Homo sapiens: one gene and its partners. The protein of the gene in region 4 purifies or fractionates together with the protein of the main gene of each other region. This does not show direct contact. Each region holds a gene or a part of one and is shown on either strand. Other genes may lie near its edges.

What was found.
Region 1: the proteins of SFXN1 (region 4) and CHCHD6 purify together in Homo sapiens (affinity purification with mass spectrometry; one large-scale study listed by BioGRID and IntAct). This does not show direct contact.
Region 2: the proteins of SFXN1 (region 4) and DHODH purify together in Homo sapiens (affinity purification with mass spectrometry; one large-scale study listed by BioGRID and IntAct). This does not show direct contact.
Region 3: the proteins of SFXN1 (region 4) and NCAPD3 purify together in Homo sapiens (co-immunoprecipitation; one large-scale study listed by IntAct). This does not show direct contact.
Region 5: the proteins of SFXN1 (region 4) and TOMM70 fractionate together in Homo sapiens (co-fractionation; one large-scale study listed by BioGRID). This does not show direct contact.
Region 6: the proteins of SFXN1 (region 4) and ACOT9 fractionate together in Homo sapiens (co-fractionation; one large-scale study listed by BioGRID). This does not show direct contact.
Region 7: the proteins of SFXN1 (region 4) and HIGD1A purify together in Homo sapiens (affinity purification with mass spectrometry; one large-scale study listed by BioGRID and IntAct). This does not show direct contact.

The regions. Positions count from the first base shown.
Region 1 is NC_000003.12:126,721,240-126,724,739, forward strand, and holds part of CHCHD6 (MICOS complex subunit MIC25), read left to right. Parts: intron 1-3,500. UniProt on the Homo sapiens protein: Component of the MICOS complex, a large protein complex of the mitochondrial inner membrane that plays crucial roles in the maintenance of crista junctions, inner membrane architecture, and formation of contact sites to the outer membrane.
Region 2 is NC_000016.10:72,022,244-72,025,743, forward strand, and holds part of DHODH (dihydroorotate dehydrogenase (quinone), mitochondrial), read left to right. Parts: intron 1-118; coding exon 119-232; intron 233-921; coding exon 922-1,075; intron 1,076-1,230; coding exon 1,231-1,390; intron 1,391-1,901; coding exon 1,902-1,956; 3' UTR 1,957-3,500. UniProt on the Homo sapiens protein: Catalyzes the conversion of dihydroorotate to orotate with quinone as electron acceptor. Required for UMP biosynthesis via de novo pathway.
Region 3 is NC_000011.10:134,199,968-134,203,467, reverse strand, and holds part of NCAPD3 (condensin-2 complex subunit D3), read left to right. Parts: intron 1-269; coding exon 270-326; intron 327-562; coding exon 563-652; intron 653-3,500.
Region 4 is NC_000005.10:175,506,060-175,509,559, reverse strand, and holds part of SFXN1 (sideroflexin-1), read right to left. Parts: intron 529-3,500; coding exon 358-528; intron 1-357. UniProt on the Homo sapiens protein: Amino acid transporter importing serine, an essential substrate of the mitochondrial branch of the one-carbon pathway, into mitochondria.
Region 5 is NC_000003.12:100,398,290-100,402,534, forward strand, and holds the start of TOMM70 (mitochondrial import receptor subunit TOM70), read right to left. Parts: upstream 2,801-4,245; 5' UTR 2,661-2,800; coding exon 2,337-2,660; intron 1-2,336. UniProt on the Homo sapiens protein: Acts as a receptor of the preprotein translocase complex of the outer mitochondrial membrane (TOM complex). Recognizes and mediates the translocation of mitochondrial preproteins from the cytosol into the mitochondria in a chaperone dependent manner.
Region 6 is NC_000023.11:23,733,277-23,736,776, reverse strand, and holds part of ACOT9 (acyl-coenzyme A thioesterase 9, mitochondrial isoform a precursor), read left to right. Parts: intron 1-760; coding exon 761-858; intron 859-2,409; coding exon 2,410-2,436; intron 2,437-3,500. UniProt on the Homo sapiens protein: Mitochondrial acyl-CoA thioesterase. Catalyzes the hydrolysis of acyl-CoAs into free fatty acids and coenzyme A (CoA), regulating their respective intracellular levels. Regulates both mitochondrial lipid and amino acid metabolism.
Region 7 is NC_000003.12:42,784,950-42,787,490, reverse strand, and holds part of HIGD1A (HIG1 domain family member 1A, mitochondrial), read left to right. Parts: intron 1-1,328; coding exon 1,329-1,463; intron 1,464-2,170; coding exon 2,171-2,220; 3' UTR 2,221-2,541. UniProt on the Homo sapiens protein: Proposed subunit of cytochrome c oxidase (COX, complex IV), which is the terminal component of the mitochondrial respiratory chain that catalyzes the reduction of oxygen to water. May play a role in the assembly of respiratory supercomplexes.

The DNA of each region.
Region 1 (3,500 bases), on a different chromosome or scaffold from region 4:
TCCAAGCTTCCTTCTGTGCTGGCTTCATCCAAGTCCTTCCACCCCACGCCTTCCAAAGTGAACCTATGGCGGCAGGCGCACGGTCTCTTCCTGTCTGTGCCTCTTCCCCGGTGCCCTGCCCTAGGCTATGAAGCTTCTGCCTTCTGCAGACATCGCTGCCGTCCCGCCCATGGGATGGAGCTTCTCCTGTGTCTAAGTCTGCGCCTGCCTTAGGGAACCCATCCCTCTCTTGGCTGCTTCCGGCCACTGGAATCCCTCCTTGTGCTGTTCTCATTGACTTCCTGTCTGGGCTGCTTCTCTTTGTTTTTGGTGTTCTCTCCCTTTTTATTTGTAACAGCTTTATTGAGATGTGATTCACATGCTGTACAATACATCCATTTAAGGCATGTGATTTAATAGTTTTTAGTGTATTCACAGGTATGTGTGACCATTGCCACAATCATTTTTAGAACATTTTCATCACCCCCACCCCCCACCCTCCCCACCAAATCCTACTTACCCTGTAGCTATCAGTCCCCACCCCGGTCCCTGCATTTCCCCAAGCCCAAGGCAGTCACGAATCTACTTTTGTGTCTAGAGATTTGCCTGTTGTGGAATACGCCACACAGTGTGGCCTTTTGGGTCTGACTCCTTTCACTTAGCGTAGTGCTTTCAAGGTTTCTCCATGTTATAATGTGTCAGTAGTTCATTCCCTTTTATGGCTGAATAATACTCCATTGTATAGATATACTTCATTTTACTTATCCATTCATTGGTTGATGAACATTTGGGTCCTTTCCATTTTTTGGCTATTACAGATAATGCTGATGTGAACACATGTTTTCATTTGTCTTTGGTGTACAATGAGAAGTGGAATTGCCATATCAAGTGGTAACTCTCCATATCCTCGCAAATACTTATTATAATTTGACTTTAAAAATTTATTTATTTATTTAGAAACAGAGCCTCACCTGTTGTCCAGGCTGGAGTGCAGTGGCACAGTCATAGCTCGCTGTAACCATGACTTCCTGGGCTCAAGCAATCCTTTTGCCTCAGCCTCCCAAGAAGCTAGGACTGTAGGCATGTGGCACCACACCTGGCTAATTAAAAAAAAATTTTTGTTTTTTAGAGAAAGGGCCTCACTGTGTTGCCCAGGCTGGTCTCAAACTCCTGGTCTCAAGTGATCCTTTTGCCTCGGCCCTCCAAAATGCTAAGATTACAGATGCGAGCCACTATGGCTGACCCTTACACGTTGACCTTTTAATTATAGCCATCCTCGTGGGTGTGATGTGGTACCTTATTGTGGTTTAAACCCGTGTTTCTCTAGAGACTAATGATGTTGAGCATCTTTTCCTGTGCTTATTGACCATTTGTATATCTTCTTTGGAAAAATTTCTATTTAGATCCTTTGCCCATTTTTAAGTAGGATTATTTTTCATTTTATTATTCAATTCTGGAAGGTGTTTATATGTTTTAGATAAAAGTTCCTTATCAGGTATATGATTTGTACATATTTTCTCCCATTCTGTGGGTTGTCTTTTCAGTTGCCCTATGGTGTCATTTGGTACTCAAAACTTTAAAATTTTGAAAAAGTCCAATTATTTATTTATTTCTTTCATTGCTCATGCTTTTGGTGTCATCTCTAAGAACGTATTGCCAAAGCCAAGGTCATAATGATTTAGCCCTCTGTTTTCTAATAAGAGTTTTATAGTTTTAGCTCTTAATGTTTAGGTCTCGGATCTGTTTTGTATTAATTCTTGTATATGGTGTAAGGTAGGTGTGCAACTATATTATTTTGCAAGGGATATCCAGTTGTCCCAGCATCATTGGTTGAAGAGACCGCTCTTTCCCCACTGAACCATCTTGGCACCCTTGTTGAAATCAACTGACCATAGAGATAAAGGTTTCTTTATGGCCTCCTTATTCCCTTCCATTGATATGTTTGGTCTTCTCTTGTCATATGTCATTAACTAGTTATTTGATTGTATATATCTTAAATACTACAGGGACTCTATTATTATTATTATTATTACAATCTTTTGTTACTAAGGAAATGTTCATGGTAAAAAAATTAAGATGCAAAAGTTCCAAAAGTGAAAATCCTGCCCCAGCTGCTCCTGTCCCCACTTTCAGGACCTCATCCTCTGAGTACTTTGCTAAGCAGTTTTGTAGATTTCTCCTTGGAGCAGATCTGTATATGTGTCTTATGTGCATGCATGTGAAATCCAAATGCAGTTCACACTTGCGGATATGTGTATATGCATATATTCAAATTCAGCAACATTTATATTTGTATGTCTGCATTTTTTTTTGCAAAATTGAGATGTGCAAAAAATTCTATGACTTTTTAAACAATCAGCAGTATATCTCATGTGTTTTCCGTGACAGTGTATGTGTATTCTACCTTGTTCTTTCTTAATGGTTCCATAAAATTCTATAGGATGTATATGCCGAAATTTTCTCAGTCAGTTCTCTATCTGTTGGATGTTTATGTGATTTCCTTTTCTTTTTTCCCTATTTCCTCCGGTGTCACAGTGAGTGTCCTTCCACATGCCTCTGTGTACATGGGGGAGTAGTTTTCTCAGTGAGATATTCTGGAAGTGGAGTTGCTGATCATGTCTTTTGTCTTACAGTAATTTTTAATGTCTTTCCCTCCGCTGTGTTTTATGATGCCTTGCACATATTAGGCACTTAATAAATATTTACTAAAGTGAACTCTTAAGGATTTTTATCCTGGATTGATCCCCAGCTTGCTGTTTCATCTCAGTAAACTGTTTTATGACACCCTTAGGCCTATTTCACATCCTCTAAATGAATGAGAGTTTTGGTTATCCAGTCTTCATTAGGGGAACTGAGGTGAAATTAGTCAAGCAGTATTTGATTATCTACTGTATGTGTGGCACTGGAGGTGTACAGAGATGAGTGAGATTCAGGCTTAGCCCTCAAGGTATTTAAAAACCATCAGGATAGGCAGGCAGGAGGTGTAGTACTTCTCTGAGAAGCACATGTGTGTTGTCAGGGGGCTCAGAGGAAGGGAAAAGGTGATACTGGCACACCTGGGAGATGGTGCAGACGTGGCTCCAGATACCACAGTACAGTGGACATCAAAATAAAGCAAATCATGAACTTTTTGGTTTCCTAGTGTATATAAGAGTTGTGTTTACACTATATTGTAGTCTCAAGTGTACACTAACATTATGCCTAAAAAGTGTATATACCTTAATTAGAAATACTTTATTGGCAAAATATGCTAATGATCATCTGAGCCTTTAGTGAGTCATAATCTTTTTGCTGGTGGGGGGTCTTGCCTCCTTGTTGATGGCTGCTGACTGATCAGGATGGTGGTTGGCTGTGGCAGTTTTGTAAAATAAGACAACAATGAAGTTTGCCACATCGATCAACTCTTCCTTTCACAAAAGATTTCTCTGTAGCATACGATGCTGTTTGATAGCATTTAACCCATAGTGGAGCTCCTTTCAAGATCGGAGTCAGTTCTCTAAAACCCTGCTGCTACTCTATCA
Region 2 (3,500 bases), on a different chromosome or scaffold from region 4:
TGTTTCTGCTTTAGTTTGATCGCTATTGTGGAAACCCACTGACCTGCAGCGTAGGTCACAGCTGCACTGCAGGGCTGTGGTCTGCGGGGTCCCCAGCTCTGGCCGTGTGTCGCCCTAGGTGCTGCAGGAGAGGGATGGCTTGCGGAGAGTGCACAGGCCGGCAGTCCTGGTGAAGATCGCTCCTGACCTCACCAGCCAGGATAAGGAGGACATTGCCAGTGTGGTCAAAGAGGTTTGAGTCGGGGCCTGGGCCCAGGGTGTGCCTCCCATGGTCTGCAGAGGCCGTTTGGCCAGCTGGGCTAGCCCAGAATGGCGTTCTTTGTGATTTCCTCTCCTTGGTATTCAAGGCTGGTTTGGTGTGTGTCATGGTGTAACTCACCCTGTGGTCAAAAGCGAATGTTGGAATAAGTGCTTGAAGGAGTTTTTCTAATGCCTCTTCCTCTCTTTTGTCAACTGCATCCAGCAAGTTTAAGGCTTGAGCTTGGCTCCTTGGCCAGTCTTGACTGGGACTGAAAATTCTTTCTCTCACTCCTCTCTCCAGCCTGTCTGGACAGCGGGTCTCTGTGGCATAGGAGAGTAGTGGAAACAGACTGAGCCCGGCCATCGTGGGTTCAAATCCTGGTTCCACCACTTACTACCTGGGGGCCTCAGACAAGACACTGTAATTGGGTTGTTGTAAGGACTGGACCCTGTCCTAGGGGAATGTTGTGGGTGGTCAGCGTGTGATGGCTGCTGTCGTCATGTTATGGCTCATTCTAAAACTTGTTGAGGAAAAGATGAGTAGTGAGGTCTGGTGTAGCTCTTGCTTTGGGGGCTGTAGGTGTGGGTACCTGGCCCGGCTGCTGCCTTCGACCTCCAGAGAAGCGCCTCTGGGTCCTTCGGTGCTATGACTCATGGCTTTTTCTCTATCTCGCACTGCAGTTGGGCATCGATGGGCTGATTGTTACGAACACCACCGTGAGTCGCCCTGCGGGCCTCCAGGGTGCCCTGCGCTCTGAAACAGGAGGGCTGAGTGGGAAGCCCCTCCGGGATTTATCAACTCAAACCATTCGGGAGATGTATGCACTCACCCAAGGCAAGGTTTCCCGTGTTTGTGTCTTCAGATCTGCGTGTGGCTTGGGCTCCTGGGTCGTGATGGGAATCATCATTCCCTAATCTGTCTTGATTGTGGGGGACTCTGGGGCTGAAGCCACATCCTTCTTTATGGTGTCGCCATGTGCTTCTCTGTAGGCCGAGTTCCCATAATTGGGGTTGGTGGTGTGAGCAGCGGGCAGGACGCGCTGGAGAAGATCCGGGCAGGGGCCTCCCTGGTGCAGCTGTACACGGCCCTCACCTTCTGGGGGCCACCCGTTGTGGGCAAAGTCAAGCGGGAACTGGAGGCCCTTCTGAAGTGAGTGAGGTCATGTGTGGCTTGAAACAGAAGTTAGGCAGAGGTTCATTTAGATCACTCAAGTCAACGAGATACTGTTGATCTGTTTCTTATTCATTCAAAAAGGAGTTGAGGGGTACACTCTGAAGGGGAGAGAAATTCTGGGTTACTCTTTTGATGAAGGACAAACAATGCCAAGGAGAACTGAGGATTAACCTCCAAGGCAATGGTGTTTCTAAGGTGGAGTTGTCCATTTGCTCAAGGGAGGGGAGCCTGAGGAATCCCATCAGCATTCCCATTAATTAAGCAACACTGGTTCAATGTTGGGAGCTGTCAATACTTAAAAGCAATTTCCTTCCTGCTCTGTTCCTACCTGGGTAGAAATATCCCTAGGTCTCTGGGTGAAGAGTGTAGAGGAAACCAGATGTGCCTGGGCCGGGATGATGCGTTTCTGGGTGAACGTGGGCTTCCTGTAAGAGCAGGGCCTGTTCTCCACTGTTTGCTGAAATTGCTTTGTTTGCTCTTTTTCCAGAGAGCAGGGCTTTGGCGGAGTCACAGATGCCATTGGAGCAGATCATCGGAGGTGAGGACAGCGTCTGACGGGAAGCCTGATCTGGAACCTTCCCAAGGACTCAGGCAAGCCTTTGTGGCTGGATCATGAGAGGAGGGACTCCATCTTGAGCCATGTCCCCCAGCCATGGCATGGCTGCACTGTAAACGCCAATCGGGGGGTCACCAGGATCAACCGCAGGCTTTCTTCAGTCCCTTGGTCAGACCATAAACTGCATTTTTGATTCTTTGTGGATTCAAACCCTAGGATCCATCAGTCTTGCAAGGACATTGAATATTAGGAGGAAAAAGTCATGGAAAAAATAAAGCCATTTAGAACCTGGGTTTCAACGCTAGCCCTTTCTGGTTTGCCATAGGCCCTGCCAAGATACTGCAGGTCCATCCAGGCCTCTGCTATCTGCATCTGCAGTGGGCTTCCCAGGAACTTGACTGTCTTTCATTTGATCTTTATTTTTGTTTATTTAATATTTTAAACTTTATTTTAAAAATATTTCAAACATAAGGGCGGGGTGTGGTGGCTCATGCCTGTAATCCCAGCACTTTGGGAGGCCGAGGCGGGCGGATCACCTGAGGCCAGGAGTTGGAGACCAGCCAGGCCACCATGGTGAAACCCTGTCTCTACCAAAAATACAAAAAATTAGCCAGATATTGTGGCAGGCACTTTTAATCCCAGCTACTCGGGAGGCTGAGGCAGGAGAATTGCTTGAACCTGGGAGGCGGAGGTTGCAGTGAGCCAAGATTGCACCAGTGCACTCCAGCTTGGGCGACAGATCAAGACTCTGTCACACACAAAACAAACAAACAAATTTTCCCGTTTCTCTCTGTCCCTTTCTCTATAACATGGATAAAATATTCACGTCTTATGTATTTATTATTGCTGAGTCATTGGTGCCTTATTCTTCAGTGTTTCAGTCTGTATCTCCTAAGCATCCTGATGTTAGTTTTTTGACTATAAAATTGACCTGCATTCTTTACTAGCAATTCAAACGGTACAGCACTCTTGAAGTGTAAACATTCCTGTTCCTCCTCACCCCACTCTGCAGACATGCCTTTCTGTCTGTCCTCCCAGACTTTTCCCCTGCATAAAGATGTTCATTTTGTACATACACTCAGACATACATGTGGCTGTATTTTTTGTATACCGATTTCTGGATGGAATGCACACTGTTATCTGTTTAGTTACTTTATGTTTTCATACAAATGACATCATCCCACAAATAGAATTCTGCCATTTACTTTCTTCACTATTCTTATGTGGCATGGTTCATGCTGGGCCTCGGTCTTTTGAGTGGGGTCTGTTTACCCAGTCCCCTGTTGGTGATCACATCGCTAACTTCCGGCGTTTTCCTATCACCATCGGTGCCTCCGTGAACACCTTGTGAATGTGCCTGTGCCTTCGTTCTGGTGTCGGTGCAGAGCAGGGTCCAAGGGGCGTGACAGCTGGGCTGAGGGGCTGGCATGTTTCACATTCTGATAGATAGAGCCAAGTTGCTCCTATCAGGTTTTCAAGCTGCCCATTTCCCACCGTGGAGACAGCAACAGAGGGGACATCCCCAGCTCC
Region 3 (3,500 bases), on a different chromosome or scaffold from region 4:
AAGGCCTTTTAAAAGTATTTCAGATGTTCATATCTGAGAGGTGACATTGGTGGCTACCTTTACTGTTGCTTTGCATTGGTGGGCATTGGTCGTATTAGGATGAATCTCCGTTTCAATGCATACCCAAGGAGAACGTTATCAGTTGTCAGCAATTTAGAATCTGTCTGCCTTGTCTTTGAGCCTAATTATCTTGATTTTGATTCCTCCGTGGATAATTACTCAGTTTATGATACTGACTTCTTCCTTCTTATCTTTCTTCTTGTTTTTAGGTCCTACGTTTTCTGTAATAGAGAGTCACCCTGGTACCTTACTGAGAAATTCATCAGGTAATGGATCAATACATTTTCAAATATTGAATGATTATCTTTTAAAAATTTGTGGAATATTTAAAATGTTTTTCTTACCTCCTTATTTACCTGCTTTAACATTGTACTTTTTTCATGAGAGAGGTTGAAATTCATTTCAGTAATAATGTTGTAACTTAAATGAGTAACATGCCCTGCTAATGTTATTAAAAGTATAACACATTTTTAGCTTAATGACTGTAATTTTTTTTTTAAAGCTTTTTCCTACCAAAGGCAGACATCTAACCGTTCCGAACCCTCAGGGGAGATCAACATAGACAGCAGTGGTGAAACAGTTGGATCTGGAGGTATGTCAGATTTTATCACTGTCAGATAGGTAATACTGCTGGATTTCAGACAACCGTAAGTAGAGTCTAAAACCTTGGATTTTTTTTTTTTTTTCTGATTTATTCACCCCTAAGAGTTGAAACAGCTGGCTGGGCGTGGTGACTCATGCCTGTAATCCCATAATCCCAGCACTTTGGGAGGCTGAGGCCTGCAGATCACTTGAGCCCAGGAGTTCAAGACCAGCCTGGGCAACACATCAAGACCCCATCTCTTAAAAAATATATATAAAAATCAGCTGGGCGTGGTGGTGTGCCCCTGTGGTCCCAGCTACTCAGGAGGCTGAGGTGGGAGGATGGCTTGAGCCCAGGAGTTCCAGGCTACAGTGAGCTCTGATCATACCACTGTACTCCAGCCTGGGCGACAGTCTGTTTAAAAAATTAAAAAATGAAAATAACACTGCAGGGCAGTCTGCTTTTTTGTACCAGCTTAGTTACTAAATAGCTGCATGATCTAGGGGTATACCTGTCGTTTTCCGGTTGTAACACCCTCCCATCTTTCCCAGACGACTGTTGGGAAAGTCTGTAGAAACAACATTTAAGAAAGTGATTTAAAGAGAGAGAGACACAGATAAGAGAGAGAAAGAGCATGTACGTAGAGGATTAATTACATAATTGGGTTTATTAATTTATTCAATAAACCTTGATCTGGTCCTTCCCGATGCGTTCCAGGCATTGGAGATGCACAAGTCTGTGAGACAGAGCTCCATCTCTTAAGGATCAGTGGAGAGACAGGTGCTTGTGCACACAAGTGTTCTCATATATACAATTGTGCACACATGTATGCGGAACACTGAGATAGGTGCCGAGATGCACAGAAAGCGCCCTGAGGATGATTACATTACTGCTTTTATTATTCAGCCTAGAAGGTCAGCGTGAAATTGGGTTCAGGAGGCTAGATATTAGCATGTATTACTCCAATTCAGAGCGATAACTACATTTATAATAAACAGGTTTTCTAAATGTGGTAGGAAAATGTACTCTGGAAAAATGCTGAATGTTTGTGTTGGCTCCAGACTTCGTCTAAACAGGTTACGGATTTACGGTGGCACAGACTTTTTCAAGCAATATCAAGTTGAGGTGATTTAATGATGCTTAAAAATTATGAAAGTTCGGGGACGCAAAGAGCCCATGTTTCCAGTGCATTGTTCATAAGCTGAAAGGACATATATTGTTGGCATTAATTGTACATTAAAAATTTTGTATAGTCACTTAGATGCACTTTGCTCTCTTTGCTTTTTCTTATTAAGGCAGAGTTCACACACCATAAAGTTCACCATGGAAAGTGTATAATGTAGTTGTTTTAGTATAGTCACAAGATTGTACAGACTAATTCCAGAACATTCCATCAGCTGAAAAATAAACCCCATAGCCATTAGCAGTCACTCCCCATGCCCCTTTCCTCCTAACACTGGCAACCAGTAATTTTCTTTCCTTATAAAATTGCCTATTCTGGGCCAGGCGTGGTGGCTCACACCGGTAATCCTGGCACATTGGGAGGCCGAGACGGGAGGAGGATCACGAGGTCAGGAGATCGAGACCATCCTGGCCAACATGGTGAAACCCCGTCTCTACTAAAATACAAAAAATTAGCTGGGCGTGGTGGCACACACCTGTAGTCCCAGCTATGAGGAGGCAGAGGCAGGAGAATCGCTTGAACCCAGGAGGTGGAGGTTGCAGTGAGCCGAGATTGCGCCACCGCACTCCAGCCTGTTGACAGAGCGAGACTCTGTCCAAAAAAAAAAAAAAAAAATTGCCTATTCTGGACATTCCGCATAAATGCAGTCATGTACTGTGTTGTCTTTTGTGTCTGACTTCTTTCACCTATAGCGTGTTTTCAAGGCTCATTCATGTTATAGCATCTATCAGTACTTCATTCCTTTTTGTGCTGAGTAATAGTCAGTTATAAGGATACACCACATTTTGTTTATGCATTCATCAGTTGATGAACATTTGGGTTGTTTTCACTTTTTGGCTATTGTGACTAATGCTGCTGTAAGTATTCTTGTATGAGTTTTTGTATAGATGTGTGGTTTCATTCCCTCTGAGTGTATACCTAGGAGGAGAACTGCTGGGTCGTATGGTAACTCTATATTCAACATTTTGAGGAACCACCACACTTTTTCAAAGTGGCCACACCATTTTACAATCCTGCTAGCAACGTATGATAATCCTATTTCTCTGCATTCCTACCAACACTTGCCATGTCTGTCTTTTTTATTTTAGCCATCTTTGTGGGTATGAGGTGGTATCTGCTTGTGGTTTTGATTTACATTTCCCTAATGGCTAATGATGTTGAGTAAATTTTCATAGGCTTATTGGCCATATACATACGTTTTCTTTGGAGAAATGTCTATTCAAGCTCTTTGCCCATTTTTTAATTGGGTTATCTTTTATTTTTGAGTTGAAAGAGTTATTTTTATATATATACCTTATCAGATATATGATTTTTAAAGACTTGTCCCAGTCTGTGGGTTGTCTTTTCAAATGGTATTCTATGAGGCACAAAACATTTTAATTTTGATGAAGTCCAATTTATCTTTTTCTTTTTTTACTCATGCTTTTGGTATCACATAGCTAAGAAATCGTTGTGTAATCCAAAGTCACAAAGATTTACTCCTGTGTTTTCTTCTAAGGGTTTTATAGTTTTAGCTCTCACATTTAGGTCTTTGATCAATTTTCAGTTAATTTTTGAATATGGTGTGATATAGGGGGTCCACCTTCACTCCTTTGCATGTGACTATCCAGTTGACATAGCACTGTTTCTTTCAGCCTGTTCCTTCACCTGTGAGTGTCTTGGCACCCTTGTAAA
Region 4 (3,500 bases):
AGAAGATGCTATTTAGCAGAGGGGAAGGGTTAAAAAAAAAAAGAGTCCCAGAGTAGCAACATTCAAACATAATGGAACTAAAAGTGAAATGACTTCTTTTCTTTTACATCAATAATACCCCATTTTTTGTTTTTTATTGTCTTCAATTTTATTTTTTATTGTATATACTAAAGGAGTTCAACATGATGTTTTGATTCATAAGTACATTACGGAATGATTCAATCAAGCTAATTACCTTGTTTGTCACTTCATATACTTATGAAATAATACTTATTTCAACAAAATTATTTACATACAAAAATATACTTTGAGCTTCTGTAATGGTAAACACACTGTTGCTACATATTCATAACATACCTGTAAAACGTCATCATACAACCTGTGATGGTCATGTTCATGGGAACCTGGGCTGACATTCTTCCTATCAAAATCATCTTCTCACCAGTGTCAGGATGAAAAGCTGAATCATAGATGTACTTTGCTCTCCACAATTCATTTTCTGTAAGACCAGGAGGAACAATTCCTTGCCTAAGAAAACAACAAATAATATGGCAATTGCTCATTTCAAATATCTCCCCAGTGTCCTAGAGACAAGTGGCTACAAGGTTTTAAAAGTTTATGCTCTGGCTGGGTGTGGTGGCTTACGTCTGTAATCCCAGCACTTTGGGAGGCTGAGGCAGGTGGATCACAAGGTCAAGAGATAGAGATCATCCTGGCCAAGATGGTGAAACCCGTCTCTACTAAAGATACAAAAATTAGCCGGGTGCGGTGGCACCCGCCTGTAATCCCAGCTACTCAGGAGGCTAAGGCAAGAGAATTGCTTGAATCTGGGAGGCAGAGGTTACAGTGAGCCAAGATCGCACCATTGCACTCCAGCCTGGTGACAAAGCGAGACTCTGTCTCAAAAAAAAAAATTTATGCTCACCTAAAACACTTGTGCCTAGATGGAGTGACAAATTTGTTACATATAGTCAGTAAAAATTTCAAAACATACAGGACAATAAACACTTAAAATGAACATTTCAGGCTGGGCGCGGTGGCTTATGCCTGTAATCTCAGCACTTTGGGAGGCTGAGGCAGGAGGATTGCTTGAGCCCAGGAGTTCAAAACCAGCCTTAGCAACATGGTGAGACTCTGTCTCTATAAAAAAATAAAAATAAATAAAAACTAGTCAGGCATTGTGGCATATGCCTGTGGTCCCAGCTACCTGGGAGGCTGAGGCAAGAGGATCACTTGAGCCCGGGAGGTTGAGGCTGCAGTGAGCAGTCATCATACCACTGTACTCCAGCCTGGGCAGAGAAAGACCCTCTCAAAAAAAAAAAAAAAAAAAAAAAAAATCAAATCTATTCATCTCAAATTATCTGTAGTTTGGAAAAGCCAGAAAAGAAATTATATATAGGGAATAGGAAAGCATTCAATTTTGAAATATTCTTCAAGTGACATATTTTATAATGTATTTTGAATTTGTAAACTCTAAAATACTTTAAACAATTAGACAAAAGTTATGGTAATCAAGGATATTAATTCATTTTTATACCTATAGAATGAAAAGCTAGTTCAGGAAGAATTTTTTTTTTTTTTTTTTTAAAGACAGGGTCTCACTCTGTCACCCAGGCTGGAGTGCAATGGCATGATCTCAGCTCACCGCAGCCTTGAACTGCTGAGCTCAAGTGATCCTCCCACCTCAGTTTCCTGAGTAGCTAGGACTATAGGCATGCGCCACCATGCCTGGTTAATTTTTTTGCATTTTTTGTAGACACAGGATTTCACCATGTTGCCCAGGCTGGTTCTGAACTCTTGGGCTTAGGCGATCTGCCTGCCATGGCCTCCAAAGGGCTGGATTACAGGCGTGGGCCACCATGCCCAGCCTCAGAAGACTCTTGATGAAAAAAAAATTAGGTGCCTCATTCTTTACTTCTTCTCTTTATCAAAGAAGCACGTATTCATTGTCAAAAATTGAGAAAAAACAGGAATCCATTAGAGCAATTAAAATCACTCAAGTCTTTACCTACTCATCTCCACTGGTAATGTTTTCATGCATGTATTTTCAGTCTCTCCTCTAGAAGCTAAATGTGATGTGTTTACTTAAAGGCATCACACCAGACCTGCTGCTTTATAACCACCTTCTTTACTCAGTAATATACTGTAAACATTTCTCTCTGTCTTCAGATATTCTTCTATATAATCTATACTGGGTTGAACAGTGTCTCCCCCAAAATTCATGTCTCACCTGCAACCTCAGAATGTGACCCTATTTGGAAATGGGATCTTTGCAGATGCAATTAGTTCAAATGCCAAACGGCATACTGGATTAGAGTGGTCCCTAAATCCAATGAATGGTGTCCTTATAGGAAGGCCATGTGCAATCAGACACAGAAGAAGGCCAAGTAATGAAGGAGGCAGAGATGACAGCAATGTACCCATAAGCCAAGGTGCATCAAAACATTCCTAGAGCCTCTAGAACCTTGGAAGCCCCAAGGAAGGATTCTTAGAGGGAGCATGGCCCTGTTGACACCTTGATATCAGACCTTGAGCCTCCATAACTGTGAGGCTCAAGTTGGTGGCAATTTGTTATGGCAGCCTTAAGAAATTAATAGGCTGGGCATGGTGGCTCACGCCTGTAATCCCAGCACTTTGGGAGGCCAAGGTGGGTGGATCACGAGGTCAGGAGTTCAAGACCAGACTGGCCAACATGGTGAAAACCCGTCTCTACTAAAAATACAGAAATTAGCCAGTGCAGTGTCAGGCAACTGTAATCCCAGCTGCTCAGGAGGCTGAGGCAGGAGAATCACTTGAACCTGGGGGGCAGAGGTTGCAGTAAGCTGAGATTGTGCTACTGCACTCCAGCCTGGGCAACAGAGTGAGACTCTGTCTCAAAAAAAAAAGAAATGAATACACCAACTTTTTAAGTACTGTATAGTATTCTCCTACATGATTATAAGATACTGTAATATATACCAATCTCCTAGTGTTGGGCATATTAATTGCTTCTAATTTTACTCCATTTGTAAAGGATGAGGAAGTAAATAAACCCTCATACATAAATCTATCCCCACATCCAAGATTATTCTGAAAGAAATGAGTAAATATGCTGGAACAAAAGCTATGTACAACATTAAAACTTTGGCTATGTCTTCTATCTTTTTTCTCTACTTGACTAGTCTTTTTTTAAAAAATTACCATCCACAGCAGCATCATTGTTATTTATGTAATTTGTACGCGTATTTTATACACTGCGATTAACCCCAATTTTTATTTTTTTGGTTGTGTTATCTGCTGTCCTGAAAATTATTATTTTTATGTAATCAGGTAGGAATAAAGTTTCTATCTAGAAAGATTATACAAATGTTCACCGATATTTCTAGCATTCTCAGAATAGTTGTTTTCTTTTTGTCATTTAGGTTTTTAATGAATTTGGAATTTATCTTAATATGAAAATGTGGACCGAGCACAATGGCTTACGCCTGTAATCCCAGCACTTTGGGAGGCCGAGACGGGCA
Region 5 (4,245 bases), on a different chromosome or scaffold from region 4:
AGGAGAACTGCTTGAACTCAGGAGGCAGAGGTTGCAGTGAGCCAAGATCGTGCCACTGCACTCCAGCCTGGGTGACAGGGTTAGACGCTGTCTCAAAAAAAAAAAAAAAAAAAAATTTAGTTTCATGTATAGAAACTATCTTTATTTTTAATGTTTACAGAACTGAGAACTTTTTGGATCTTTTATTTTACCTACTATTCTTCCATGATTAAAACTAAATTAACAAACGAAATAGAAAATGACTGGAGAATTTCAGACATCCAAAATTGATGTAAGACAAGTGATAATTAATTCAAATAATCCTCTTGATAACTACTTTTAATAGCAGCAGTGAGCTATTATAAATGATCATAATGAGAATCATCAATTTTTAGTACTGAAAGAAACAGAAGAGATCTAATATTTTAATCCTCTTATTCTACAGGGATGACGCTAAGGTCAAGGAGACAAAATGACTTTCCCAAAGTGACAATGCTGGAGAGCCCACTATAAAGCTTACAAATCCTAGTTCTAACACAGTCCATAAGTTCTTCTACTATCCAGTCATAAACCTTTTAGAAAATAGGTAATGCTTCACTCTCCCATAGGAAAGATCATATGGCTTTCTCATGGCCTAGCACAATGCCTCACACACTGCAGATACTAGTTTGTTCATTCCTACACCAAAACTTCCTTTAAAGCTAATTTGACATCCTAGTAAAAATATCTTCGCCCGGGCGCGGTGGCTCACGCCTGTAATCCCAGCACTTTGGGAGGCCAAGATGGGCAGATCACCTGAGGTCAGGAGTTCAAGACCAGCCTGGCCAACACAGTGAAACCCCGTCTCTACTAAAAATACAAAAATTAGCGGGGCATGGTGGCGCGCGCCTGTAGTCCCAGCTATTCCGGAGGCTGAGGCAGAACTGCTTGAACCCAGGAGGCGGAGGTGGTGGTGAGCTGAGATCGCACCACTGCACTCCAGCCTGGGCAACAAAGTGAGACTCCATCTCAAAAAAAAAAAAAAAATTCAACCTGAATAGTATAATATGGAAATGACTTGCATACATATTTAAGTGTATACACTTGGATACAATTAGAAGTTACTTGACCAACTGTATATACTTATGTATAAAACTGGGAGATATTTGACCAAACGTTTCTCTGACCTCGACTTACTCTGGTACTACCATTGAACAACTCCAGACCCAGAGAAAATCCACCACACCCAATCCCAGTATTGTCAAATGCAGCCAGACTAATTCTCTGCACAGCTGTCAGATACCAAAAGGATTTAACAGTCAGTTCACCAAAACCATACAAAGCAGTTCACTAAATAATCCAATGCTTGGCCTCACATCAGAGAAACTGTATCATGCATATTAGGCTTGGTCATGTACATTTCCAGGTGAAATGGAAAAACTGAATTTAAGATGCTTCCAATCAAAAAGTTTAAGAAGTCACTCCCATTTTTTTTTTTTTTTTTTTTGTATGTGTGTGTAGGCCTGGACCTGGGGCAGGGGGCTGTGTGCAACCAAGCCTGGTGAGCATTGCTGTGGCCGCTACTCTTGTGCAGCAAGAGGGGACAGTGCAGTGCAGAGCGTTTTCTGACAAAGGCCAAGGGGTCCGGAGTGCAAAAGGACACCTTGGGGCTGGGGCATGGCAGGAGAGGTTACGGGCGCTGAGTGCTTGCAGCCAAGGGGGCTTCGGGGTTGCTGAGAGAGGACGAGCCTTGGGAGCTTGACAGTTCTGCTTACAGTTCAGAGGCTGTAAAACAAATGCCACTGAACACCATTTCACTCTTTAGAACCTGTGTAGTCTTTCTTTTTCTATGTAGAAAGCCATCTAATCGTTTTTGTTTTTGTTTTGCTTTTGTCAACTAACCGTCACTGTAGTTGCCCACTTACCCCCAGCAAAAACACACTCCAAAAGGGGGAGTGGCTCATTATTAAAAGGCTCTTAGCGATTAGGTTGTAGGCTTTGGAAATCACAGAAACAGTTCGTATCACGATGTACCAATTGTTAATCGAATTTAGCTTCCTTCACTTATTAAATACAATCATCACATTTGCAAATGCCCCACTCCCATCTACAACACTAGGGATAAATGCTGTGTCACTGAGAAGAAAAGCAAAGGATTTTTCTGAAACCAAAAGCAAACTGTCAAAGAATGCCAGTAACCTGTCATCGAGCTACTCTATGCCCTCCACTGGCAGCCAGAAATGAGTCTCCCTAAACCCAAGTGTTGTGCTGCCGCTTGGCAGCTTCCGTCTGATGGGAAGCCCCCTCACTGACACAACCCGCCAAGGAAAAGCTGCACGAGCCAGTTTCCTCCTCTACGGCCTGGGGCTGCTTCTCACCATGTCCAAGTGAGCACCGGGACCTTCAGGGTGTCCGCTGCCCGGGGCCGGACTGGCCCTGCCCTCCGGGGTCTTCCGTTCGCTGTTGCGCTTCAGGCCGCTGGCGTCGCCCCGGCCTCTGGCCTCCCGGCGCCGTTGCTGCCGACTCCACAGGTATATGGCACCCGCGCCCAGCAGCAGGGGTGCCCCGACCGCCAGAGCCAGCTGCCATCGCGGCAGCCCCCCCGTGCCCGGGCCCGCAGTCCCGCCGCCGCCCACCCCACTCCCGGAGCTCGGTACAGCGGCTGCGACCACCGCTGCCTCCACAGGTTTAGAGGCGGCCATGACAAGTGTCCTCTGCCACCGCCTCCCTGTCTGTCGCGAGCGCCACAATCACCAAACAGCGTGCGAAGGAAGACCGAGGGAGGGAAGGAAAGCAATGAGCGAGCGAGCACGCTAGGCAGAGAGAGCGGACGACAGAAAAGGGCCAGAGGTCACCGGAAGCCCAGGGCATGCCGGGCCAGACCTGGCCGTCCTTCTCCTCCAGTATCAACCGAAGAGGGAGAGGAGGGGCGGAAATCACTTCCGGGTTAAGGGAAAGCGTGGGTGTGAGTAGGAGTCTTCGGAAACCCTTTTTCTTTCTTTTCGCCCCGCTGCTGTTCGGGAGATGGACTTCTGGAGTCCCCGTCGTAGCTGGTGTTGTCCCCTCTACCTTCAGGAAAGAAGGGCAGATGGCCCTCTTGCCTACTGAAGCCGAGGAGGGGCGCGTATACAGCGGGCTAAGGGCGCTCAAGAGATCCGAGTGGAAGAAAAAGCAGCGGCACAGCACTGGAATGGGCGGGAGTGGCAGAAGAGTTGTGAAGGCTATTGGCTAGCAAGGGTGGTGGGCGGGGCGTAGACCGAGCTACCCAGTTTACTGGTCGATTTCGGATCCAGTTTTCCAGTTATAGCCACGTTGGCACCTCTTGAACCTCTGTGGCCGTTAGCACGGTTTTCTGCCCGCGTGCCCGAGAAACCAACGGATTAGAAGGACTTTTAAAGATGTGTGAGGAAAGAGCTCACCGCTGAAGAAGGCTGCTGCATCACTGAACTTCTTATCACTAACATAGCGAGATTTTAGTTTGGACGAATTTGAGGTTATAGGGGAGATAGCGATGGCAGAAGACTAGGTGGAAATGGCACATCTAGGTTGGCTGCAGTCGAAACGGTTTGAGCGTGGTCGCTGTGGCTCATCGTCGGCACCAATTAACGAAGCGATGACATCTGCGTTGTTAGGGGTTTCTTAAACTGAGTTGGTAGAAATGCGAAGCGTCAGGGTTCCCGCCGGCTTCGAGCCTTTCTTGGCGTATTTGTATCTTGAGCTGATTTCTGCGTCAGCCCACATCTCGCTCTGATCCGCACGCCCCCCGGGTTGTTTTGCAGTAGCAGTCTCAGCCCTCTTCTCGTCTCATTCCCAAATCGTAATTTCAGTTCACAGCTTTTTATCTATAATAGCTTTATCAACTCTTTTTCCGATGCTCTGCACCAGATCTCTTAAAATATAAAATTACCTTGCAAGGTATTGTTTGGAATACACGGTATTTTCATGAAGACAACTATTAATAGAAAAATCAGAGTCCAGAACTATGGTTCTCCATTTCTGGTATACTGGTTTGCAGAAGCCTTACATTAAGATTTCATAAATGATTGTTTTGCTGTTAAGTGCAACAACATCACAGTAGAGCTACATAAAGATTGAAAGGAGATATTTTATCAAGTGGCACCAGAATGGACTGATTAAAATAGAATGGCCTAATTGGAAAGAATTTCAGGATCACCGGTTTCTCCTGCTTCATGTAAGTTCCTATTAGTAAATTGCCTTCAGGCAATAGGGTTTCTTAGCAACAGACTAAAAAAATGGGCTAAAAATAGCAGTGGAATTGAGTTGATC
Region 6 (3,500 bases), on a different chromosome or scaffold from region 4:
TACAATCTTGGCTCACTGCAGCCTCGACCTCCTGGGTTCAAGTGATCCTCCCATCTGAGCCTCTTGAGTAGCTGGGACCACAGGTGCATGCCACCACGCCCGGCTAATTTTTGTATTTTTTGTAGAGATGGGGTTTTGCCATGTTGCCCAGGCTGGTCTTGAACTCCTGGGCTCAACCTGTCTACCTGCCTCAGCCTCCCAAAGTGCTGGGATTACAGGCCTGTGCCACCGTGGCCAGTAGATAGCTTTTATTTTATTGTGTTGGGACTCTAGAAAATTTCTGCGTAAGTTAAATAAATACTTTCTTTGCATCTGGAAAGGGCTAATTCAATTTTCAAAGTTTACTTTATAATTGGGTTTATCTTATTTATTGAGGAAATATGGTGCGATAATAAAGAACAGAATAAATTGTTCATAATGAGTTTGCTCAGTTGTTTACTAAATCGATTATGGACTTCTGAAACTAATAAAATAGAAAGACCAATAATAAATGCATTAAACCTAGTTGCCGTCTTTTATTTATTTTGTAGATAATTACCTAATTGGTCTCTGCTCTCAAGAAATGTTTACTCTAGTGGGAGAGATGATTTATGGAATAGCCTCATGAAAACATACATATACTTGTGAAACAGCTACAGACTCCTACAAGACAATATATACTAAGGGTGATATGGCCAGATACTCTGGGAGGAGGGTAGGTCTTTAGGGTTGCCAGGGAAGAAGCTGTGGGATCTGCTCTGTGTTTTATCTTGTTTTATAGGCTTTGTGCCTTGGGCAAAGGGCAGCTTACTCCTGGAAGAGGACTGACTCAAGGACCCCAGAACCCCAAGAAACAGGGAATCTTCCACATTCATGAAGGCAAGCATGGTGTCTCTGTTTGATGCCTATGTGGTGAAAAACCTTGTTTTACTTTTATTTGAAAGGTATATAGAGTGATAGTTTAGAGCAAATGAGGCATATTAAAGGTAGATCTTTCATAAACATTTCATTGACAAAATGACCAGGATAGCTGCATAATATTAATAGCTTCAGATAGAAGTCACATTCAGATTTTGAACTATTGTTCCTGGGAGCCTTGAGGACTGAGCTCTTTTAGTTAGGTGATTTCCACTTCCTGTGTGTAGGTTCTGAAGGCATGGAAAAAAAGAGATGGGCCCATTAGTTGTATCAAGTAAACACTCCTAGTCCATAGTTATGTTCGAGGGATCCTGTTAGTCCATGCTTAATTAAAGTTAATTTCAATTACCAATATGATACGTAAACTATGGATTGTCTTTATTAAACTAGGAGTATTCGTTATAATTAAAATTGCGGCTTCTTTAAAGGGTCCAAATAAATTTATATTATGTGTGTATATAAATATATATGTAAGTAAAATTAAAAAGTTTTTCCTTCTTGGCCCTCAATACTTGCCTCTCTTCTTACACTGATTAAGCTAGTAGTAATTATTTTATGTCAGTGAGCATCAGTAGTCCATGTACTATTTGAGGTACTTTCTGTCCATTCTTTTTTTTTTTTTTTTTTTTTTTTTTTTTTGGGATGGAGTCTTGCTCTGTCACCCAGGCTGGAGTGCAGTGGCAGGATCTCGGCTCACTGCAACCTCTGCCTCCCTAGTAGCTAGGATTACAGGCATGCTCCACCACGCCCAACTAATTTTTGTATTTTTAGGAGAGATGGAGTTTCGCCACGTTGGCCAGGCTGGTCTTGAACTCCTGGCCTCAAGTAATCTGCCTGTCTTGGCCTCCCAAAGTGCTGGGATTACAGGTGTGAGCCTTTTTTTTTTTTTTTTTTTTTTGAGATGAAGTCTCACTCTGTCGCATAGGCTGGAGTGCAGTGGTGGGATCTTGGCTCACTGCAACCTCCGCCTCCCAGGTTCAAGTGATTCTCTGCCTCAGCCTCCTGAGTAGCTGGGATTACAGGTGCCCACCATGCCAGGCTAATCTTTGTATTTTTAGTAGAGACGGGGTTTCACCATCTTGGCCAGGCTGGTCTTGAACTCCTGACCTCATGATTCACCCACCTCGGCCCCATCCATTCTTTTATTCAAGGAACTTAGGAGGAAAAAATCAGAAATAAGACTAAGTTACTAATGGTTGTTGTTTGCAGTTCTCTAACATTTAGTTGTAATTATACATCAAATTTATGGTGTATCCAAAATTGTTTGATAGAAAAATCAACCATTTTTCATGAAAGTTAAAATGCATGTTCATATAAATTATATTTGGTTTTGATCAGTTAGTTATTGAAGGACTGAGGATTGCTATAGTTAATTTCCTATAACTGGAATGTATATTTTGAAGTGCTAGGAAAAACACATAAACTCAACACAGTATTTGAAATACTACAGATTTATCTTTTAGTTTTGAATTATTGCTGGTTCTCTAATTGATTTTCCCTTTATTCATATAGCATGTTCATCTATACATGTGAATCATGGTGTGTGTGGTAATTAGTATCAGCTTTTCTTTTAAGAGCTTAAATTTTGTAAGCACTAATATACGCTTGCACTTTTGGGCAGTGGCATTAACTAAAATTGCATTCTTTGCCTTAGCTTGATGTAAGTCTTTGCTTCATTTTTCTGGCTTAAACTTTTCTAACAACCAGGAGACTATAAATATATGAGAAATTAATTATAATGAGACTCAGATTTGGATATTAGTATTAGTCTCTGAACTAAGTAATTTGATCTATTACTGCGTATAAGAAGATAGGTGGGGGCCAGGCGCAGTGGCTCACACCTGTAATCCCAGCACTTTGGGAGGCCGAGGCAGGCGGATCACCTGAGGTCAGGAGTTCAAGACCAGCCTGACCAACATAGTGAAACCCCATCTCTACTAAAAATACAAAATTAGCAGGGCATGGTGATGCCTGCCTGCAATCCCAGCTACTCGGGAGGCTGAGGCAGGAGAATCACTTGAACCCGGGAGGCGGAGGTTGCAGTGAGCTGAGATCGTGCTATTGCACTCCAGGCTGGGCAACAAGAGCGAAACTCTGTCTCAAACAAAACAAAACAAAACAAAACTACAAAAATTAGCCGGGTGTGGTGGCACAGCGCCTGTAATCCCAGCTACTTGGGAGACTGAGGCAGGAGAATCGCCTGAACCCGGGAGGTGGAGGATGCAGTGAGCCGAGATTGTGCCACCGAACTCTAGCCTGGGTGACAGAGTGAGACCATCTCAAAAAAAACAACAAAAAAGAAGATAGGTGGGAATCCTGTTCATATCTCCATCATAATGGCTCTTACTGGCTAACACTGATACAGCCCCATTAAGTGAATAATTGAAGTTATCCTTTTTTGTTTGTTTATATAAACCCTAGTGATTGGCACAAAGGTATTCATTTGTGCACCTTTAAAGAGACAGTATAGTTCTTTCAGGTTTTTAGGGAGCAGAGGCTTGATCCTGTCCCTGAGCTGTTTGTTGTGGCATTAAATGGAAATCTATGGATCTTTAAATCTTTTGAGTGCATGAATTGCTTTTTGTAGTTCTTGAGCTCATTGC
Region 7 (2,541 bases), on a different chromosome or scaffold from region 4:
CCTCCCAAGTAGCTGGGATTACAGGCGCATGCCACCATGCCCGGCTAATTTTTTGTATTTTTAGTAGAGATGACCAGGCTGTTGGCCAGGCTGGTCTCAAACCCCTGATCTCAGGTGATCCACCTGCCTCAACCTCCCAAAGTGCTGGGATGATGGGTGTGAGCTACTGCTCCCAGCCCTAATTTTTTTTTCCTCCTTATGATTTGGAAGTTCTGCGGCTATTCTTACACTGCTTGCTGGTGGTTATCTTTACATTGTCAAACTAGGATGTGTTTTTTTCATCTATTTCCTGTATTAAAATGAATATAAATTTATTCCCTAAGACCTTTAGCACACGTTTTGTTGTGATAATCATAGCCTAATTTCAGATTCTTAATTTTGCTATATTATACCAGTCATTTTCAAGGAACCAGTACAGATTTTTCTGTCTTTATTGCTCACCATTATATCTTAACCATTATGTCTTTATTTCTTGAACTGTCCATTTTGACTCACTGTTTTTATTTGACTGGATATTTTCCTCTAGGTTTTTGTATCAGTACCTGGGTGGCAGCTTGGGAAAGACAGCCCTCCTGTAGTCCCAGTTATTAGGGAGGCTGAGCGAAGAGGATCACCTGAGCCTGGGAGAACAAGGCTGCAGTGAGCTATGATTGTGCGGCTGCACTCCAGCCTGGGCAACAGAGCAAGACCCCATCTCTTAAAAAATAAAATAATAAATCTTAAAAAGAAAACATGGAAGGTCATGTCCTGAATGCTTTTGCCCTCAAAATGAATGAGAGTTTGGCTCTGTATAGAACTCTAGGATCATAATCCTTTTAACTGAAACTAATATTGCTCTATTCTTTTCCTTTATTTACTTCTTCCCAGTACAATATCCCAAAGTTTGAAATATTCAGGCAATGTTTCTCAGTGGTAGTAGTGTGTAGGATTGTCTCTGGTATATTAACTGATTACCTTGAGGGAGGGAAATAGGACAGAGAGGAAATGGAATAAATTCATTCTCTAAGTCAAGACCTTTGGCACACTTTCGTTCTGATAATCATAATCTAGGTTCCTGTTAATTCCCTAGCAGTTTTTTAAAGGAGTTTATCTACTGGCCCCACAAACCCATGTTTTTAAAGATAATCCTGACTTTCTGGATCTGTTGTTGTTTGCTTAAAGATTTTTGGTTTTGATAGGGGAAAACATGAAAAACTCAATTTGTATGTTAGCTAATTAATGATCTGATAAAGAATCCTCATAAAAATAATAGAATGTACATTGACTGATGGTAAAGTCATCTTGGTCCCTTCTCATGCATCTGACATACTTGTTACTTTGTTTTACAGGAATAGCGGGTTTTGCAGCAATTGTTGCATATGGATTATATAAACTGAAGAGCAGGGGAAATACTAAAATGTCCATTCATCTGATCCACATGCGTGTGGCAGCCCAAGGCTTTGTTGTAGGAGCAATGACTGTTGGTAGGTTCCTATAGGAAATTTCAAATTTTCGTTTCTCATTAAGGTATTTCTTTACAAACAAAATAGGTAAATATTTTTAGCTGACCTTTTAGCAGTTGGAGAATATCACTTATACTCATTTTCATGTAAAAAATGAATTAATGAAGATAATTCAAGTAGTGACATAGTTTTTCTATGATATATCCTACTAAGATTTTAAAGAAAAAAAAAATCCTGTCAATCACTGAGTTTATAATTTCATTGAAGAGCCTAGACATGTAATTGGGGTTGATAGTAACATCTGTTATCTGGGAGAGACATACAATTGCTATTTTATTGTGTTTTTAAAGGAGAGATTCTTAAAGTTTAGGTATTACATGCTTCTTCTATTGGCTTTATAATTCATTGACTTTATCTGGTATTATGTAGCAAGAGTGATTCCTTTCAAAGTTACCAGATAAATATTGATTGTTCTTTCAAAGAAATATTGTAACATGTGAAGTAGCCATACCAGCCCTTTGCTACTTGGGAAACTACTGTATGTAACAAGAGTTTTAGAGATTTAAGATGTTTAAGAAGGCAAGAGTATAAGCTTCCTAGGGTCTTATTCCCCTTGTAAATATTCCATGCTAGCAGTGGTGCTACTTTCAGCTATTTTATGAACTGGTTTTTATTTTTGAATATTTAAGAAAATACTGAAATGCTTAACTAGCATTCTTTTTCTTTAGGTATGGGCTATTCCATGTATCGGGAATTCTGGGCAAAACCTAAGCCTTAGAAGAAGAGATGCTGTCTTGGTCTTGTTGGAGGAGCTTGCTTTAGTTAGATGTCTTATTATTAAAGTTACCTATTATTGTTGGAAATAAACTAATTTGTATGGGTTTAGATGGTAACATGGCATTTTGAATATTGGCTTCCTTTCTTGCAGGCTTGATTTGCTTGGTGACCGAATTACTAGTGACTAGTTTACTAACTAGGTCATTCAAGGAAGTCAAGTTAACTTAAACATGTCACCTAAATGCACTTGATGGTGTTGAAATGTCCACCTTCTTAAATTTTTAAGATGAACTTAGTTCTAAAGAAGATAACAGGCCAATCC